Linked DNA regions of Homo sapiens: region 1 is linked to region 2. Evidence: fine-mapped expression QTL. Tissue or cell type: fibroblasts. Region 2 holds a variant in brackets; the other region holds the start of a gene. All regions are shown on one strand. Distances are between the middles of the regions.

Evidence for each region. PIP is the estimated chance that this variant, and not a neighbour inherited with it, causes the effect.
Region 1: GDAP1 starts here. The variant in region 2 is fine-mapped to the expression of GDAP1 in fibroblasts (GTEx, PIP above 0.99). The same link has a PIP of 0.9 or more in subcutaneous fat.

Annotation. Positions count from the first base shown.
Region 1 is chr8:74,347,556-74,353,100 of GRCh38, reverse strand. It overlaps GDAP1 (ganglioside induced differentiation associated protein 1), which reads right to left and starts at 2,698. Exons shown (of 6, transcript NM_018972.4): 1 at 2,523-2,698; 2 at 1,635-1,827. The coding sequence starts at 2,639. RefSeq lists an enhancer at 2,456-2,685.
Region 2 is chr8:74,429,125-74,434,669 of GRCh38, reverse strand. It overlaps a transcript of GDAP1 not described here. Among named protein-coding and RNA genes, the nearest start is that of GDAP1, 81 kb to the right of the region's middle. The variant G/A (reference allele first, on the strand shown) is at 2,669.

The DNA of each region.
Region 1 (5,545 bases), 82 kb after region 2:
AAAGCAAAAGAGAAAGACTAAGGAAAATTGTAAGAAAACCTAATAATTGGTAACATTACTATGTTGTAAATATAATTTATATCACTGAATTTCTTAGAGGAAAAACAGTGTAAGGAGGGGATGGAGGAGGGGAATGATGATAGTAGAAGCAGTTCAGGCAATGCTACCAAAAAACTTAAATGGGATTTTCCATTTAGAATACCTTTTTAAAGTTTTTGATCATTTAAAATAGATTTATTAACACAATTATTTTGTTTTGTTCCATTATAATTACATCCCCCAAGAAATACAAATTAACACACTTATCCATTTCCAAAAAGCTCAAGATTGAGAAAAATTCTCTTAAATGAACTAGTTGTCATTTTCAGTACAGTCCCCAGCATATAAATTTATAAGGAATAGCAAATAAAGATGAAAAGAAAGTACATCATTAAATGCTTTGGTTTACGCTAAAGCTACCTTTAATTAAAACCGCCAATCACAATCCTAGGGGACTAGCACTTAGATTAAGAACAGGGGTAGCCCATTGCTAATCTAATTCCCTGGGCTTCCCCCTCGCCACTGCCCACCATCTAGGCCTAATAATACTCATTTTCCTTCTAAGTACATGAGACTTTTTTTTGTCCTAGTAATTTCCTTTGTCAGCTTCCTGTAGTTTGGGGCTAGGTTCTGCTTTCACCTACCCTATTAACATCAACATAACTGGTGGCAGATGAAAAGTAACAATCTCATACAGCCTTTTTAGAAGAGCATTCAGCTGGAAGCTCTGAGCACCATGTTCTGCTCTCATCAATGTCCATTGTGATCAGCTGTGTAGTCTTTGGTAACTCTTTGAAGCTACAGTTCACTTCAAAGGATTATTATTAGGAACAAGCAAGACAATGTGTAAGTGGCAAGGATTATGGGAGACAGTCAGTGTAGTATGAAGGCTTTGGAGACCAAAGACTCTGCCATACAATAGCTATATTACTTTGGGCAACCCTGTTGCTTTCTCCTCATTTACATAATGGGAATAACTTGTCTACCATGCCTGTCTCAGACAGATACTTTTGAAGACATTATTGAAGAAATTATAAAATGTCTGACACATAACAAGCTGTTAATAAATGATTTACCTAAATGCACTATACAAATTTAAGCCCTATAATTCCTTAGTAAAGATATAAAATTCAAACAATTCAGAAGTGACTGGGGCAAAGAACTCAGGTATACTAACATTCTATTCTCCTTTAAGATTTATTGCTCTTTTTTCCCTCTTGTTTTTAAGGTGAAACCATTTGGTATATTAGATGAAATCGTCACAGTGCACATTTAGAATATTATGAATTTAAGACTAAGAAATCACCAACACAAACCACACATTTGCAGTTTTTTGCAAGTGAATTTTTTTAAGTTTCAACATTAACATTTGTATTTTGCATTAAATTATTTTAAATAGCATTACACTAGCCTATACAAAATTTGTTATTGACCTATTTGATATTTGTGTGCTTATGGAAATGGAAAAGGTTTTTAATCCCAAACCACCATCATGACACAAGAGAAAGAGAGAGAGGAGAGAGAGAAAAAGAGAAAGGGAACACATAGTTGTGTTGAAAGTAAATCCAAGAAATCGCAAGTAGCCTTAACATTACCATCCAGGAAAGTCTGTTCAAGATAATCAATGATCTGAGTGGCCTCACAAATTATGTTTTCCCCGTGGATAAGGACAGGCACTTCTCCAGTTGAGTTCAAACGCATAAACCAAGGCTCATTGTGCTCACTCAAGGGCAGACTTACATCATGTTCCTCGCACTTCAATGCCTTTTCAGCAATTACCAAGCGCACCTGGAAGAGTTCACACTGGTTACTACAACACATGTAAGCTTTCAATTAAATGACTTCCCTGGACACCGCTAAGCAGCCTTTCTGGGCTTCCCTGTGTTACCGACATTTTCAACAGTCGTTTTAACAATTCCTATTCCTGGAATTAACAAGTAAGGAAAGAACAATACTCAACAAATTAAGAGAAGAACACAAAATAAGTAATGAAATGATTCTGACTGTATTCATTAAACAGTCACCCTCCTCATCACTACCACTTTCTCGGTGTCCTAAACCTGATTATGGGTCCTCCCCAGACAAGAACCTGACATGTAGGTACATCAGCTCTTGCTGAAGACAGTGAATGCGAGAGAGCAAAAGAAGAGATCGCAGATTATGAGGGTCCACAAAGGCACCTCCCTCTGCCTCTCTCCGAAGACCAGCAGGCAAGGCCTCCAGACCAAATACTGAAAATGATGCTTTTTTGTCGCATTTCGCGAGAGGCGGAGCCTGGGCCATAGCCACATAGGATCATCTCCGATCGATTCTCCCCGCTCCCCACCCGGGCGCGTCCCCGCCTGGAGGGAGCGCCTGCCCGGGGTCAGGACACTGGAGGCGGATTTCTAGGTGGACCGGCTTCCCTGGGCGGGACTCAGAAGGAGCTGTCCCAGTGCTGAAGCCCGATCCGCGCCACCCTCCGCCGCCAAGGCCTGTTGTACCTTTTGAGAGCTGAAGGAATGCGTCCAATGGTACAGAATGAGCTTAACCTCCGCGTCGGCCTTGCCTTCCGCCCTCAAGGGCGGGCTCCCTCTCTGCTCTTCCTGCCTCTCAGCCATCTTGGGGTGCGCGAGCACGGGTGCGCCCAGCCTGTCCGCCCTGGACTTCTCCCTCCCACACTGCCCCGCAAGGCGTTTCCGGGTTTTGAGGGGTACCTGCCGGAAGGAGGGCGCGCGGCCCGCTGGGAAATGTAGTTTCGCCGGCGGCAGAGTCTGCGAACACGCGGGGTCTGCGACTGGAAAGCCCCTGGCAAGCCTGGGAGTGCACCTGGGAGGTGCAATTGAACGGTTGTTTTTTGGGTTTGTTTTTTTTTTTAGAAGAAAAAATAAAAAATATGAGACCCTGGTTATGAAGGGCAGTAAGGAAGAATGATGATAGCAAATTACTCTTCGGTTTGGAGGTTGCTCAGGTATAAAAGCAGCAATTTCCCAAGATACTGAGGGTTGCTCTTGGAGCCTGTTCCTTTGTTGGAAAGGAAGTTCCGGTCGACAAGCAAAGCAACAGGAAAAGGATCTATGAGCTTTCATTAGAAGATGCTACTATGACATTAGTGGACTAATTCCACAAATTTGACTAACTGCTGTAGATTAGAGAATAGTCTTGTATAAACAGTAAGTACTTGATTTTGATAATTAAACTGTGCTTTGTAAAAGAAAAAAAAATACCACTATGGAGTCATGCAAAAAAACTGTTTTTGTCATAAACAGCTAATAAACAATGGCGATATAAAATAGCCTAGTTGTTAAACACAAAAATTCTACAACAGTACTGCCTAAGTTCATATCCTGGTTTTTCCATTTTCTAAGTAAGAATAATAATTTTATTGTTTCCCTCATAAGATTTTTGTGAAAAATTAATAATAAAATGTTAAACACTCAGAACACCCTGTCACGTTGTAGGCACTCAGTCTTAGTCACAGGTTCAGTTGTCTTATAAACATTCTGTTATAACCATAGTCAGAATCATAATTTTATATTAGTCTAGTTATTATTGTATGTCTTTAAAAATTTGGCATCATATAGTAAGTTGATTTTAAAAATCTCTTTCAGTAATATGTATAAATATGACCATAGAATAAATGCCTGTATAATTTATCTGGCAAATATTTATTGAGCACCTACACTGTTCCAGACATTGTGCTGGCTCCTGGTAATATAAAGATGTGTGAAATCTAATATCTAACACTCAAGATATAATCTGGCAGTAGAGACGACCAAGGAAATAGACAATCACAATAAAGATGAGAACTGTCTTAGGGTGAACACAGAGTACTATGAGAAAGGAGGGGCAGGCAGCCAACCCAGGTCAGAGAAGGGCCCCTGGAAAAGACAAAATCTCATGAGGTTCTTCCTTGCCTTTACAGTACTTCATTTGTTACTCTCTGTAATTCTTTCATAATTTTTTAAGATTTCATAATGTCTTTTATATCCTTCAGTTAATTCAAGTGCTATAGAAAAGGTGAATTCCTTGCCAAAATTGTTTTTATCAGTTCACACTTAAGAGTAAGAGCGGAAAGAGGAAAACTTTGAAATCGGACAGAGTGGGGTTTAAATTCTAGCTCTACCCTAACTTGAGCTTTCTTGAGCTTTGACTTCATTGTGTGTAAAAAATGGATACATAAAAATTATATGCCTACCCAGATGGCTGTGGGAATTCAAGAAAGGATATATATAAAGCACCTAGGGTATTGCCTGGAATGTAGCCATTGATAAAAACATATGTGTAAAAGCCCCTTCACTGACATTAGGAGGGCATTATATTACATTTCATCCTCTCTCTGTAGGTCTCAAAATTTTTACAACTACCCATATAATCCTCCTCTCCCATTCCTCTTCAGAACTTCATTTTTTAATTATCCACCTTCAGATTCCTAGTTTTCTATTCCATTACCTTCAATAGCAAACACCACGCTTACTTTTGCACCAACCTTAATACTAAATCATCCTAAATATTTGAATAAATTCCAGTACTCGTGATAAGCCATGTGTCACCTGCAGCTGAAAAAGTCCTGACAATAAAGCCCTGGTCCCTCAAACACAACACTTTTCTCCATCACATCCTGCCCACAGCAAAGCCATAGAAGAAACACTGAATGACTTGATTACTTGGTGTTTAGTACAAAGCATTCATAGATCTCATTGGGAGTGTAAACATGCACAGAACTTCTGAAGGCAAATGTATCAATATGCTTCAAGAATCGTGAAAATGGGCATAACTTCTAACCTAGAAATTCCTCTATTTGCAATTTAAGGAAATAATTCTGACAAATTCTGACAGTTGATCCTACCTATTTTTCCCTTCTTCCGTGGTAATAGAAATTTTAGCTGAGCACATGACTGCTGAGAATAAAGACTGTATTTCCTAGGCTCTATTGCAGCAAAACATGGTCTCCTAACTATCTTCTAACAAGGGGAAAGTCATGGATGTGCCACAGGGCAAGTGCTGGGAATCTTTCTTAAAGAGACAATTAGCCCTGTGCCTCTTCTTCATCCCATCCTCCATCCTGCTTCAGAGAGGATGGATTCTGACCTGGACCATGAAGAATGGGGCCACGCCTTAGGAACAGCTGGGCCATGAACTTGGGGAAAATTGAGCTTCTAAAGACACTGAGGAGCAGAACCCACACCAACTTGGGTCTGCAAACCTCCAAACTTTTACTTGAAAAGGAAAAAAAGGATCTTGTGTAAGGCACTGTTATTTGGTGCTTTCTGGATGCTATTGTCTTAACCTATCCTCATCAATACATCAATCTTGTAAAATATAGGTGGCTTTTATTTCTTTATGATTCTGTATACTCTAATTGTTTTATAATGAATGTGTGTTGCTTTTACCTGTTAAAGGTGTGAACACTAAAAGAATATCATTAAATAGATGACATAAGGAAAAATGTGTTTGTTTTATCACAATAGAACTGCTACATCTACTTCCAATGATCTATAATCACTTTTTTCCCATCCCAATAAAA
Region 2 (5,545 bases):
GGGCATGGTATAAGGCCTGACTCTATCCATGAGCAGAGTTGGCTCAAAAAGTTCATGTCTGATAAAGACTAAGTAGAATGAGAACTCATGCCATACTTTGTCTGTTCCTAGAGCCATTCCAATTCCCATCTTCTTTGATACTCATCTCACTCTGGGAATAACAGGTCCTAGCACAGAATTTTCTGTATAGTAGATCTGGCACTTGATTATGTTCAATTCAGTACCTTCATTTTAAATCTTCAGTATATACTGATGGTCTAATTACTTCATGAGAACAGTTCAGTGGCCTACTCCAATCAGCATTTGTATTGACAAATGCAGGAAGAAAGTGTCTAGAGTTTAACTGGCTGACACTGTCACAGACACTGAGGAATAATGAAATGATCACGGTCTTTATTCTTGAGTAAATAACTATTTAAACATGCAAGAACTTACATGAACTGCACAGTCTGAGGGAACAGTCCCCAGAAGACTGCTGTCACTTCAGAGTGGGAACCCCAGTGGGTTCCCAGGGCCACCATCACTTCATACCAACTGGCTACAAATTCAGACCATCCTCAGGTTTAATAATTTGCTAGAATGACTCAGTGAAAGCTATAAGATTCACTGCCATGTTTACTGTAGGCAAAGGTACAAATTAGTACCAGCCTAAGGAAGAAATGCATAGGAGGAAGAATCTGGGAAGTTTCCAAATGCAGAACTACTAGTCATCCCTTCCTTCCCCATGGAGCCACAGACTGCACAGTTCTCCAGTGTCAATGTCTGACAGTACACACAGAGTATTGCCAATCCAGGAAGCTCACCAGGCCTTCAGTATCCAAAGTTTTTATTGGGGTTGATCACATACATCCTGTGTGGCTGACCTTTACCATACCCTCCTGAAGGTCTGGGCTAGTGCCTCTACTCTCTTCGGGATGTGGCACATCCCTTCCAGGCACCTAGAGATCACCTCCCGATAGCCAAAGGAAATGCCAGAACTCTCTCTAGGCAAGTTTAATTCTTTGAAAAAACAGTTGAAGATACCAGGTTGAACCATAGGCAATTCCCAATATTTAATCATTTTGACATTAAAAAAAAGACAATTCCCTATGGTTCAACATAATAGGATGAAATTGTTCATTCATCAAATATTTACTGTGTGCATAGACTATGCAAAAAGTAAGATACTTGATAATGAGCTCCTGTGCCTTTGTAGTACAGATAATCTAGTAAACAGGTTAGAAAATGTTCATCTAACAAATATTTATGAAACATTGACCATGTGCTAATCCTTATTCCAGGTCATGGAAATGTAGTATTAAACAAGACCAAATGATCCCTGCCCTCGTGGAACTTTTAATGTTGTGGAGTTAGGAAGGGAAGGGGGCAGAAACAGACATTCAAGGAGTAAACCAGTAAATACGGCAATTTAATACAGTTGTAAGTTTTATAAAGAAAATAGTATAAGATAATGGGATAGAGATTCTAGAGGGGAGGTAAGGGCTAATTTAGATAGGATGATCAGGAAAGGCTCCTCTGAGAAAAGACCTTAGCACTAGAGCCTAAATAATGAGCAGGCACCAACCACGGAAGGATCTGGAAGCAGAGCCTTGCAGACAAATGGGACAGCTGATTAGTGGCAAGGAAAGCTGAGTTTACTGAAGAATATAATTGCCTATGTGGCTGAAGCCTATTGGACTAGGGGACAATCATAAGATATGATGTCAGAAAAGCTGGAAGGAGCCAGATCATGTGAGGCTTTATACATAATAGTAATAAGATTTTATTCCAAGTACAAAAGAACCAATGATCTCATAAAAAATTTAATATCACAGTTTTTAAATTAACAATAATATTGATACCAACATATCAGTGACAAGTGCTATAGAAGGAGCAAAACAAAGGGCTAGAGAAAGTAGGATAGTCCCTTCCAGCTCCAATAAAGCGAATTTTTAGAAAGTTGACATTTGCACAAGGCCTTGAAGGATGGCGAGTCCATCTATTAAATGGCCAGGGAAGGCGCTGATGGAATCCCAGTCCAGATGAGATGCAGCCATTCATGGAAGCACAGGAGCAGCTCAGTCAAGAACCTGGTCAAGGAACACACCCTCCAGCCCATCCAGAAGATGGGATGATAGGGATACAGGCAGAGTGGAACGTTACTCTAGAGAAGAAGATTTGGACTACGCCAAAACCAAATACCAAACTGAGGAAGTTGGGTTTTATTTACTAAATACTGGGAAGCTTATACAGAGTTTAAGTGACAAATATTATAAGCATAAATGTGCTTTAGGTAAAGGGTAACAGCACTATTGTATGTTAGAATGAGTGAATGACCAGAAAAAAAAAATTTACTTGCTAGTGCTAGAAATACATCTCAAACTAGCTTAAAGATTATTGACTCAGCAAGTGAGAAATCCAAGGGTAAAATACCTTGAGGAATGGCTGAATCCAAGGCCCTAAGGGATATTGCAACAGAAATGCCCACCAGGGTCCCTGCTTTCCTGTGAGTTATGCACCCTCCAAAGGAAAAATGGCCACCAATAGTTCCAACTTATTCTCGTAGCTCATGATCTCAGAGGGAGAGAGAGACCCTCTATCTTCCAGTATTCATATATTAAAGTTTAGAGAAAATAATAATAGGCATGACAATGACTAAAATTTATTGTTGCTTACCGTGTGACAAAAT[G/A]TGCTCCAAATACTTCACACAAAACATTTCATTTAACTGCCTCAAGAATCCTATGAGGTAATAATACTATGAGCCCCACTTTTCTGATTATAAAACAGAAAGGTGAAATTATTTTCCCACAATCACGTATTTACTAAGTGGTGGTACAAAATTCAAATCCAGGTGGATAAACTCTAGAACTAGCACGCTTATTTTACCATTTTTATTATAAAGAATTTTGAGGCCGGGTGCAGTGGCTCACACCTGTAATTCCAGCACTTTGGGAGGCCGACGCAGGCAGATCACGAGGTCAGGAGATCGAGACCATCCTGGCTAACATGGTGAAACCCTGTCTCTACTAAAAATACAAAAAATTAGCCGGGTGCAGTGGCGGGCGCCTGTAGTCCCAGCTACTTGGGAGGCTGAGGCAGGAGAATGGCGTGAACCCGGGAGGCGGAGCTTGCAGTGAGCGGAGATCCAGCCACTGTGCTCCAGCCTGGGTGACAGAGCGAGACTCTGTCTCAAAAAATAAATAAATAAATAAATAAATAAGAAAGAATTTTGAACATGTTCACATTAGTCAAACTAGTATAATGAATGCCCATAATATTCATTACTTAAGTCCATATAAGCCAATCCAGACTAAACCCTCCTCCGTGTTATTTTAAAGCAAACCAGACATAGCATCATTTACATTTAATCCATAAATTCTTCAGTATATATCTCATTTTAATAAGACCACAGTATAGTCTCACCTGACAAAATAAACAATAATTTCTTAATATCATTAAATAACCAGTCTATGTTCACATTTCCAATTAGCTCATAAATATCATACATCATTTTTATTTCTATATTATGGTGATGCAACAGCAAAATTCAGACTGTAGGAAAAACTACAGGATAACTAGTTTTCTTCAATAAGCAGAAAAATGTATAAATTAAAAAAAGAAAGAAAGAAATGTGGAAATATGGATTATAAGAGACTTAAAAGTTATTTCAAACAATCACTGTATGAACTTCATTTGGATCCTGAATACTGGAAATTGTTTAATTCTTTTTTGTGCACTAGGGATGGAGAGTCAAATTACTGTGTCTTCTAAAAGCCCCAGATTTCACTACCACACAATTTATCCATGTAACAATCCTGCACTTGTACCCCCTAAATCTATAAAAATAAAAATTTATTTAAGATATTTTTAAAAACAACAACAATTGTGCCTTAAAGCCATTGGGAAGAGTTCCTCTCTGTGAAGGTGTGCTCCTAACTGAACACACAAGATTTGTAAAAATTGCTTTTTTATTTTTTGTTTTGTAATTACGTAAAATATTTATGCAGCTCAGAAGTCAAGTTTACAAGGCAAATTCACTTCTGTGCCTATTCTCTTTACCCTACTTTCTCTCTCCCTTTTTATGTAGTAGCTGATTTTTATTTTACAGCTTATTCTTCCCTTGTATATATGTGCACCCTACCTTTCTCCAGTAAATAATAAATACTGTATACACTTTACTCTACATTGCTTTATTCCAGTGGGCAATATATCATAAAGATATTCCTCATTCCTTTAACAACTGCATAGAACCATATTGTGTGGAGTATCATAGTTTATTCAACTAGCTTCTTACTCTGGGAATTTGGAGTTGGTTCTAGTCTTATGCTACTCCAGTAGATATCCAATGAAAGCCATGTCCACACACCTTTCTGTAATTTTGCCAGTGGAATAAATTTCTAGAAGTGGAGTTGTTTTGTCAAAGAATAAATGCATATGGTGTTTTGTAAAACCATTTTGCAATCACATCAACAATGTATAAAAATGCCCTTCAGCTTCTCCAACTAAGTACATTGTCACACTTGAACCATTTACCCATCTAATAGTTGAGAAATGGTATTCGTTGTATTTAATTTGCATTTCTCTTACAATCAATGAAGTTGTGCATCTTTTTATATGGCTATAAGTCATATGCTTTTCTTTTTCTCCGAACTATGTTCATTTCTCTCAACCACATCTTTCTATGTGGTTGCTCTTCCCTGTTTTGGGACACTGTATATTAGAACAGGTAACACTGTCCGTGATGTGCAATGGAAATATGTTTTCCTAGTTTGTTATTTTTCTTTTTACTTTGCTTATCATGTTCCTTGATACATAAAGTTATATTTTTTCTAAATATAATTAAAAATATTATATTCTTTCCTTTATTGACTGTACATACATTCTACATTACCACATGCTATGGGCTGAATTGCATCCCCTCAAAACTCATGTGTTGGAATCCACACCCCCAGTACTTCAAAGTATGACTGTATTTGTAAATAGGGCCGTTAAAGGGTAATTAAGTTAAACGAGGCCTTATGGGTGGGTCCTAACCCAATATGACTGGTGTCCTTATAAGAAGAGAAGATTAGGACACAGACACTTGCAGAAGGAAGACCATGTGAAGACATCTGAAGATGGCCATCACAAACCAAGGAGAGGGACTCTTTGAAGAAATCAACCCTGTTGACACATTGATTTCAGACTTCCCACCTCCAGACCTATGAGCAAACAAATATCTGCTGTTTAACCTTCCCTGTCTGTAGTATTTTGTTATAGCAGCCTTAACAAATTAATAATATTACATATACTATTTTGAAGGGTGAATTTTTCATTCTTGTTTGTAGAAGAATAAATCACTATAATTAGCCATTTGTCTCTTAGACTTTTTTATTATATATATATTTTTTATTATACTTTAAGTTCTATTCCTCAGGGATCTAGAACTAGAAATACCATTTGATCCAGCCATCCCATTACTGGGTATATACCCAAAGGATTATAAATCATGCTGCCATAAAGACACATGCACATGTATGCTTATTGCAGCACTATTCACAATAGCAAAGACTTGGAACCAACCCAA